Regions from separate parts of the Homo sapiens genome. Here region 1 is linked to region 2. The links come from fine-mapping of genetic effects on gene expression. Tissue or cell type: whole blood. Region 2 holds a variant in brackets; the other region holds the start of a gene. All regions are shown on one strand. Distances are from middle to middle.

Region 1 (5,148 bases), 75 kb after region 2:
AAATACTTAGGCAGGCAAGGACCCATGTTCAAAGATGCACACCATCATTCACGAATGTGGAAAACTGGAAACCTCAATGTCAACAGAGGACTGAATGGAAAACGATGCAGTTGTTAAGAACTGTAAGTACTAATATGGAAGAAAGCTCAGGATATGTTAAAAATGGGTGCCCATTTTTGTTTATTTCCCTCTCTCTGTACACAGAATAGAAAAGGGTCTGGAGGATGCACCAGAATGGGGGTAAAGCAAGCCCTGTGGATTTGTACCTGACACCTTGCTTTAAGGTAAACTACATACACATATATACAGTAAGCATAGATCGCTTTAGAGATTTTAAAAAGCTTAGGCCAGGCGCGGTGGCTCTCTCCCACCCCGGCACGTTGGGAGGCTGAGGCGGAAGGATCGCTTGAACCCAGGAGTTCGAGACCAGCCTGGGCAACATAGTGAGACCCCAATCTCTACAAAAAATTTTAAAAATTAGCCAAGCATGGTGGCATGTGCTTTTAGTCCCAGCTACTTGGGAGGCTCAGGCAAGAGGATTGCTTGAGCCTGAGAGGTCGAGACTGCAGTGAGCTGTGATTGCATCACTGTGTTCCAGCTTGGGCGACAGAGTGAGATCCCGTCTCAAAAAACAAACAAACAAAAACTTGGACAAAAAGTAAAATAGCTATTGTTCCAGGATAATTTTATTCTACTGAACCAAGTGACAGGGAAAGAATTTTTCCTACTGTGGTTTTGCCTCCTCCAACCCTTTTCAAACATTTCTTGAATACCTACTAAGTGCTGGGCACTGCTGAAGGAGGCAGACAAAAAGCACCCACATCCATTGCACGAGGTGCACGTGTAGTACTAACTGCAGGCACAAACTTTCTGTACACAGGAATGCTCATGTTAGGAAATTACCTTGTGAGGAAAAGGAGTGTCAATTCTCGGCTCACATTCTAAGGCAAAAGAACACACTTTGGGCTGCATGCAGTGGCTCATGCCTGCAAGTAATCTCAGCACTGTGGGAGGCCAAGGCAGGAGGACTGCTTGAGCCCAGGAATTTGAGACCAGCCTGGGCAACAAAGCAAGATTCTGCCTCTACATAAAAAATAATAATAATGATAGAGTCGGGTGCAGTGGCTCATGCCTGTAATCCCAACACTTTGGGAGGCTGAGGTGGGCAGATCACGAGGTCAGAAGTTTGAGACCAGCCTGGCCAATATGGTGAAACCCCATCTCTACTAAGAATTAGCCGGGCATGGTGGCACGCACCTGTAATCCCAGCTACTCAGGAGGGTGAGGCAGAAGAATCACTTGAACCCGGAGGACTGAGGTTGCAGTGAGTCGAGATCATGCCACTGCACTCCAGCCTGGACAAGAACAAGACTCCGTCTCAAAATAAATAAATAAATAAATAATAAATAACACACTTTGGAAACAAAAATAAGTCAAGTTAATAAACTGTTATCCAACATGGGATAAAATATATGAATCACAGGCCCCTGAGACTTCAGCGGCACAGATCATCTGCATTTAATCCTACACAAAACACACACTAAGAGGAAAGGCTCAAAATGGGTTGTAGGCCGGCACGGTGGCTCACGCCTGTAATCCCAGCACTTTGGGAGGCCGAGGGGGCAGATCACGAGGTCAGGAAATCGAGACCATCCTGGCTAACACGGTGAAACCCCATCTCTACTAAAAATACAAAAAATTAGCCAGGCGTGGTGGCACGCACCTGTAGTCCCAGCTACTCCGGAGGCTGAGGCAGGAGAATCGCTTGAACCCGGGAAGCGGAGGTTGCAGTGAGCCAAAATCGCACCACTGCACTCCAACCTGGGCGAGAGTGAGACTCTGTCTCAAAAACAAAAACAAAAAAAAAAAAAAAAAAACGGGTTGTATACCAACGAGGTGATGGAGGCTGGGGTGGTCGGGTAACAAGAGGCTTTAGGAGTAGCTGGGATCTAATTAATCTTCAAAACACCCGACCCATGTCCTAAAATGCCATCCTATGCTAGAATACACTATAACAAAACTAAAAATGATGAACCTGCCTAGGTCGTGCTGCAAAGGCCTTTTCTTTAGAAAGTTAAAAGGGGCCTGAGGCTCAAAGTAGAAATTAAGAGGCACAACCTGGTAGTAACCACGGACAAAGCAATCAAGGAAGCTCAGGCCCTCAGGAGGCAGAAAGCCTGAGATGGCTCGGAGAAGATAAAGTCGCCTCCCCAAAAGCGGTGTCAAGGTGACAGCGGGGTTTCCCAGGACCTCAGAGACTCAGGTCCTCAGTGAGCCCAGCCATCACTCAAGCTGCGGAATAAGCATTTTCGTCCTTTACCCAATCCCTCCCCAAAGTGCTGTCAGAAGAAACCTGAACCGTCCTGCGGCAGAGACGGGAGCAAAGCGGAGAGCAGACTGCCCCAAACGTGTTCCCGGAGGGAGGGAGCAGGGTGGGTTTTTGGAAAGAGGCCTGCAGGGGCGGGACAGTGGGTGTGAGGGCAGGGGCAACGCTGCAATCGAGGGGTCTGGGGTCGCAGAGAAGCGGGTGGCAGGATGGAGGAATAGGAGAGAGAGAGAAAAGAAACGAGGGTCATCTAGGAGAGGAGTATGGGGAGGAAGGAAGAGGAGAAAGAGGATGGAGCCTGGCAGCGGGGTTTGGGGACCGGCAAGGCTTAACCACCCAGGAAGTCCCGGAAGGAGAAGAGGGCAACGGGGTGGGAGAGAGACCAACGCAGAAAGAGAAACAAAGTTGCCAAGGGCGAGGGGCCAGCGCGAGGAACGCACCGGTGGCAAGGCACTCAGTGCCTAACTTTTTAGGACGGGAGGCTCCAGGGAGGCGGGATTTTGGAGCCCAGGGACCGGGGGAGTCCAGGCGGCCGGGAAGCGACGCGCAAGCGAGGGGCGTAGGGGTCCCTGCCAGGCGGTGGCCCGGGGTCCCGGGATCCTGGGGCGGGGCAGAGGAGCTTTTCAGCCGCGGTGGAGGTCCCCGGACAGCCACCCCGACCCCAGCCCCGCGCAGCGCCTCACTTACCCGAGCAGGGGCGGCGAGGCCAACGCGGCGGCGGCGGCAGAGGCGGCTGCGAAGGGCGGTGCGGCCCCGGCCCTCCGGACCCCGCCCCCGCCCCGGAGCCTGCGGTCGGCGCCTCCCATTGGCTGCTGCTCTACGGTACCGCGTCCGCCTCGGCCAATCAGCGCAGAGCAGCGTCGTTTGGAAACTTTTTTCCCAGGCCGGGCGCGGCGCGGCCAAGCGGCGAAGGCTCCTGGCCGGAGGGGGTTTGAGAGGCGCCGGCTGCCGGGCGCTGGGCTGCGGCGGGCTGGCGGGCATTGGAGATGCTGCAGAACGCTGCCTGGACACCCGGGAAACGGGTTTGGGCTTGCGGGCCGCGCATTTCAGGAAAATACGCCGGCCTCTCCTTCACTTCGATTGCATTTTCCCATTCTTGCACTTTCTCCAAATCAGAAGGAAAGACAAAGATTCAGGCCCACTGAAGCTAGCAGTGCCCCGTGCCCTTCCTACTCCTTTACACCAAAAGTAGAATCTTCAGCATCATTATCTTCTCCAGAAGCAGGAGAACGTAGTGCACCAGAATTTGGTCATAAACTTGGCTTTGAGTCCTAGTCCTGCCCCTTACTAACTGTGTGGTCTTGGGAAAGTTGTTTAGCCTCTATGACTCCGTTTCCCCATCTATAAAACGCCATTATGGGTCTGGCGCGGTGGTCACGCCTGTAATCCCAGCACTTTGGGAGGCCAAGGCGGGTGGATCACGAGGTCAGGAGTTCAAGACCAGCCTGGCACATGGTGAAACCCCGTCTCTACTAAAGATACAAAAAATTAGCCGGATGTGGTGGCACGCACCTGTAATCCCAGCTACTCAGGAGGCTGAGGCAGGAGAATCACGGGAAACCGGGAGGTGGCGGTTGCAGTGAGCCGAGATCACACCACTGCACTCTAGCCTAGGCGACAGGGCAAGACTCCGTCTTAAAGAACAGACAAACAAACAAACGACATTATGCAGAGGACTAAATGACTTAACAGCATTTGTAAAAACGTTTAGAACAGAAATTTGAACTTAGTAAGTACAATATATGTATTTGTTAAATGATCTTGATTTTGTTTATTTATTTATTTTGAGATGAAATCTCCCTCTGTCTCCCAGGCTGGAATGCAGTGGCGTGATCTCCACTCACTGCAACCTCTGCCTTCTGAGTTCAAGCAATTCTCCTGCTTCAGCCTCCCGAGTAGCTGGGATCACAGGCCCGCATCACCACACCCGGCTAATTTTTATATTTTTAGTAGAGACGGGGTTTCACCATGTTGGCCAGGCTGCTCTCGAATCCCTGTCCTCAGGTGATCCACCCACCTCGGCCTCCCAAAGTCCTGGGATTACAGGCGTGAGCCACCACACACTGCCTGAAGATCGTGATTTTTAAATGGCTGTGTGTGCCAGGCACAATTCTCACAGCAACCCTAATTGTTCACTAACAAATTAAAATTAAAAAATAATTTTTTTCTTTTCGAGACAGAGTTTCCCTCTTGTTGCCCAGGCTGGCGTGCAATGGTGCGATCTCGGCTCACTGCAACCTCTGCCTCCCAGATTCAAGCGATTTTCTTGTCTTAGTCTCCCTAGTAGCTGGGATTACAGGCGCCCACCATTACGCCCAGCTAATTTTTTGTATTTTTAGTAGAGACACGGTTTCACTGTGTTGGCCAGGCTGGTCTCGAACTCCTGACCTCAAGCAATACACCTCAGTCTCCCAAAGTGCTGGGATTACAGGCGTGAGCCATGTAACTCAGAAGGCAGAGGTTGCGGTGAGTGGAGATCACGCCACTGCATTCCAGCCTGGGAGACAGAGGGAGACTTCATCTCAAAATAAATAAATAAATAAAATCAAGCCACCATGCTTGGCTGGAATTTCTTTTTTTCTTTATTTTCTTCTAAAACATCCTGTCATAACATGTTCATTAACAAATACCGAACATTCTGGTTAGTGGGTACAAAAATAGAGTTAGAATGAATAAGATCTAGTATTTGGGAGCACAGCAGGGTGACTACAGTCCACAACAATGTATTGTACATTTTAAAATAACTAAAGGAGTATAATTGGAGTGCTTGTAACACAAAGAAAGGATAAATGCTTGAGGTCATGGACACCCATTTACCCTGA
Region 2 (5,148 bases):
TGAGATGGAGTCTCACTCTGTTACCCAGGCTGGAATGCAGTGGCATGATCTTGGTTCACTGCAACCTCCACCTCCCAGGTTCAAGCAATACTTGTGCCTTAGCCACCCCAGTAGCTGGGACTACAGGCGTGCGCCACCATGCCCGGCTAATTTTTCCATTTTTAGTAGAGATGCAGTTTCGCCATGTTGGCCAGGCTGGTCTCGAACTCCTCACCTCAAGTGATCCACCTGCCTTGGCCTCCCAAAGCTACTTATTTCTGAAACAGGGTCTCACTTTGTTGCCCAGGCTGGAGTGCAGTGGTGTGATCATAGCTCACTGCAGCCTCCAATTCCTGGGCTCAAGCAAGCCTGCCATCCGCCTCCTGAGTAGCTGGGATTGCTGGTGTGTGCCCCCCACACCCAGCTAATGTTTTATTTTAGTAGAGATGGGGGTCTCACTACATTGCCCAGGCTGGTCTTGTACTCCTGGCCTTAAGCGATCCTTCTGCCTGCTTCCCAAAGTGCTGGGGATGACAAGTATGAGCTGCCATGGCATGCCTTCAAACATTAAAGTTTTTTGAAAAAGAAGCTGGGAATCCAGATTTTTATGTGACATTTATTAAAATGTCGGCAACTCATTTTTTTAAAAGTAGTGAAAGGGTCAAAGGGGACATGTCAGCAGGTTGGATACCGCTTGTGGGATTCCAGATTGCAACCCATGAGCTTTAGGAAAATAGAATCCAAAATATCAGCTGGGTGCGGCAGCTCACGCCTGTAATCCCAGCACTTAGGGAGGCCAAGATGGGTGGATCACTTGAGGTCAGGAGTTCGAGAGCAGCCTGGCTAACATGGTGAAACCTCGTCTCTACTAAAAATACAAAAATTAGTCGGGCATGGTGGCGGGCGCCTGTAATCCCAGCTACTTGGGCAGCTGAGGCAGGAGAATAGTTTGAACCTGGGAGGCGGAGGTTGCAGTGAGCCAAGATTGTGCCACGGCACTCCAGCCTGGGTAACAGAGTTAAGACTCCATCTCAAAAAAAAAATAACAACAAAAAAACCCCAAATCTCTTACTGGTGATTGTGTGCCCCCTGTTGTGTGCCTTCCTGGACCTCTCTGAGGGAGGAAAGGGCAGGGCCTGAAACGTTCTCCCGGCCACAGCCTCCCTGTTATCCCTCCCCTCTGCTTCCTTCGCCAGGCCAAGGCGAACCTAGACAAGAATAAGCAGACGCTGGAGAAAGAGAACGCAGACCTGGCCGGGGAGCTGCGGGTCCTGGGCCAGGCCAAGCAGGAGGTGGAACATAAGAAGAAGAAGCTGGAGGCGCAGGTGCAGGAGCTGCAGTCCAAGTGCAGCGATGGGGAGCGGGCCCGGGCGGAGCTCAATGACAAAGTCCACAAGCTGCAGGTGAGGAGGTGGCGCGGTGGTGTGGTGGGCAGTGCTGGGTGGTGCCCAGTTCTGTGGGGAGGAGCCTCTTCCCGGCTCGCTGAGGTCTCTCTTGCTGCAAGGCAAGTCCTTTCCTCTAGTTGCGTTCCTGGAGGAGAGGCGATGATCTCCCTGTTCAATTAAATATTAAAAAAACCTTCTGGCCAGGCACGGTGGCTCATGCCTGTAATCCCAGCACTTTGGGAGACAGAGGTGGGTGGATCACCTGAGGTCAGGGGTTTGAGACCAGTCTGGCCAACATGGTGAAAAGTCTCTACTAAAAATACAAAAATTAGCCAGGCGTGGTCGTGGGCACCTGTAGTCCCATCTACTCGGGAGGCTGAGGCAGGAGAATAGCTTGAACCCAGGAGGCAGAGGTTGCAGTGTGCGGAGACCGCACCATTGTACTCCAGCCTGGGCTAAAAGGGCAAAACTCTGTCTCAGGAAAAAAAAAAAAAAAGAAAAAAAACCCTTCCTTTTCCAATTTGATAAGTATTTATTGAGCACCTGCTGTATGCCAGGCACTGTGCTTAATCCTGAGATCCAACAGCAAGGAAGAAGAGACACTGTCGCTGCCCCAGTAGGACTCCAGCCGAGTAAGGGGAAGGGAAGGGAAGGGAAAGACATGAATAATCACACAAATGAATGTCAAATGATGCAGCAAAGGGAAGGCACATGATGCCCAAGTGTAAATAACCAGGGGGCCTAACCTGGGGGAGGAGGAGCCACGAAAGGCTTCCCTAAGGAGCATGGATAAGTCTACCAGGCAGAGGGAACAGCGTGTGCAAAGGCCCTGTGGTAAGTAGAAAAATTAGGAGAGAGACATACAGCCAGTAGAGCTGGAGTGCCCAGCTGGGGTTGGGGGTAGGGGGAGATAGTACAGAGTGGGGTTGGAGGGGGAGCTTGTACCCAGATGATGTAGGGCTTTTGAGAACCTATTACATGTATGTTGATCCTTACTCTGGGCAATGTGAAGCTGTTGAGGGGTTTTAAGCTGCTGAATGACATGGTCTTTTTGTCTTTGGTCTTCTTTCACTTGGCATAGCCATTTACCCTGCCTTGCCACTCATGGGGACGTGGCCAAAGTTTTCACAAATGTTTAACATGTCCACAGCCAGGGACCAAGGGGCGAGGGAAGAATTAAGTGAGATGTTTTTTTCTCACATGCAGTTGAGAGCAGGGCTTTTGCCGCCCTCATATAAGCAGTGTCAAGATCATTCATATCCTCCTTGTCAATGGAAGAGATGGAGGGGTAGGCTAACAGCCTCAAAGGGACTTATGCAGAGACACTAGGGAGTAAAAGCCAGAGAATACAGAGAGGACGTTTTTACCTTTAGGGCCTGCGTCTCTGGCTTTGGCCATCAGGGTCAAAGAGTAGGAGTGAGGAAGGAAGGGATGGGACAGCATCCCTGGGACGTTCAAGTACCATCCTGGTCTCCCTTCTCCAGCCTTAGAGAGTGGACCAGCCAGAGCACCTCGTCTGGACTCTCAGACCTGCTGCTTTGTCTCTACCAACCTTGGCAGGGATCTAGGATCCATTTAGTGGGATCAGGTCCCAGTCAATACCATTGGGGCTCAAATAAGTTCTTAGAACCACAGAGTCTAGGGCCAGGGTCCCAACTCATAGGTGACGGAGTTCCCTTCAAGCCACAGATTCTGTTTTTTTTGTGTGTGTGTGT[G/T]TTTTTTTTTTTTTTTATCAGAGTCCCATACCTCACGGGTATTTTCTCAATCAGTGAACACCTCAAGTACTAGCCCATGTGTTTTGAGTAAAAAGGGCTCCTTTCAACGAGGATCCCCTTCTAGAGGCTTTGACTAACCAGTCTCTTGGCACCCTTAGAATGAAGTTGAGAGCGTCACAGGGATGCTTAACGAGGCCGAGGGGAAGGCCATTAAGCTGGCCAAGGACGTGGCGTCCCTCAGTTCCCAGCTCCAGGACACCCAGGTGAGTGTCCTGCCACATCATCCAGGGGACCTGGGGGGTGGCCTTCCTCGGGGCAGGTCCCTGGGACCTCTTTGCATCCCTTTTGCAGGAGCTGCTTCAAGAAGAAACCCGGCAGAAGCTCAACGTGTCTACGAAGCTGCGCCAGCTGGAGGAGGAGCGGAACAGCCTGCAAGACCAGCTGGACGAGGAGATGGAGGCCAAGCAGAACCTGGAGCGCCACATCTCCACTCTCAACATCCAGGTGCCTGCCCCGTGTCCTTGCTTCCTTCATGGGTCCTCTCAACTTCTCTGCGCTGAGATCCCCCGCAGGCAGATCGCGGTGGAGTGTTGGTGCGATGGTGCTTGACCCCCCAGCTTCCCCTGCTATTGGGTTTCTCCAACGAGGAGACATGGTCTTCGCTTCTCAGAGTCTGTGGGGCCAGGGACAGGGGCCACTCATGGTCCCCCTCTCACCCTACCCTGGACGCTGTCCTTGTAGCTCTCCGACTCGAAGAAGAAGCTGCAGGACTTTGCCAGCACCGTGGAAGCTCTGGAAGAGGGGAAGAAGAGGTTCCAGAAGGAGATCGAGAACCTCACCCAGCAGTACGAGGAGAAGGCGGCCGCTTATGATAAACTGGAAAAGACCAAGAACAGGCTTCAGCAGGAGCTGGACGACCTGGTTGTTGATTTGGACAACCAGCGGCAACTCGTGTCCAACCTGGAAAAGAAGCAGAGGAAATTTGATCAGGTAGAGGGCGTGGGGTGTCCCCCACTCTGGCCATGGACGCTGGGTTGGGGAATCAGCTCTGCAGAGTATGACGCGTGGCTCTGGCCTGTGCCTGCATCCCCTCTCCACTCTGTGGGGAGCCATGGGAGGCTGTCTTATCTTGTCTTGGGCGACCATGGAGCATTAACGCTACCAGGTCACAGTAAGGATGGCAAAGAAGCCTTGATGACTGTGACTTTTCTGGGTACCAGCACCATGAGGGTCACCTGCACACATGGTGATGCCTTAGTTTCTAGCCTGAAGAAGGAATGAGGTGCTTATTTATTCACTAAATGTATTTACTGAATACCTATTGAGTAGTATTCCAAGTAATTCAGTTTCTATACTTTTAATACCACTCTTCCCTAAGATTTCATTCTGTAAAATTCCAAGTACACAGCAAAGTTGACAGAATTGTACGGTGAACACCTTTAAGGCCACCACCTGGATTCAGTCATTGACACTGTATTATATGAACTTTATCAGATACTTATTTTGAGACAGGATCTAGCTCTGTCACCCAGGCTGGAGTGCAGTGGTGTGATCTCAGCTCCCCGCAACCTCCACCACTGGGTTCAAGCGATTCTCCTGCTTCAGCCTTTCATGTAGCCGGGATTATAGGAGCACACCACTATGTCTGGCTAATTTTTGTATTTTTAGTAGAGATGGGGTTTTGCCATGTTGTCCAGGCTGGTCTCCAACTCCTGGCCTCACATGATCTGCCTGCCTTGGCCTCCCAAAGTGCTGGGATTATAGGTATGAGCCACTATGCCCGGCCCACATATTTATTTATAAAGACTAATTCTATCTATCATGCCTTATCTCTTGGGTACATTTCAGAGCAAATTACAGATGTCAGTACATTTCCCCTTCCACACCTCAACATTGCATATTAATTAGAGTTTATTTTTAAACACAATTTTGCTTCTTTTGGGGTAAAACTTACATGTGATGAGATTCACAAATCTTAATTGTACGATAAATGGAGACCCCTGTATGACCCAAACCCCTAAATACCAACTTTTAAGATACATTATTATTTAGTAAATATGATTTAGTTT

What was found. PIP is the estimated chance that this variant, and not a neighbour inherited with it, causes the effect.
Region 1: NDE1 starts here. The variant in region 2 is fine-mapped to the expression of NDE1 in whole blood (INTERVAL, PIP above 0.99).

What each region holds. Positions count from the first base shown.
Region 1 is chr16:15,648,160-15,653,307 of GRCh38, reverse strand. NDE1 (nudE neurodevelopment protein 1) reads right to left here and starts at 3,063. Exons shown (of 9, transcript NM_017668.3): 1 at 3,014-3,063. RefSeq lists enhancers at 2,361-2,860, 2,861-3,362.
Region 2 is chr16:15,723,082-15,728,229 of GRCh38, reverse strand. It overlaps NDE1 (nudE neurodevelopment protein 1), which reads right to left. Exons shown (of 9, transcript NM_017668.3): 9 at 1,877-4,039. The coding sequence ends at 3,979. MYH11 (myosin heavy chain 11) reads left to right here. Exons shown (of 41, transcript NM_002474.3): 28 at 1,176-1,382; 29 at 3,238-3,342; 30 at 3,431-3,583; 31 at 3,821-4,069. Among named protein-coding and RNA genes, the nearest start is that of NDE1, 75 kb to the right of the region's middle. The variant G/T (reference allele first, on the strand shown) is at 3,080.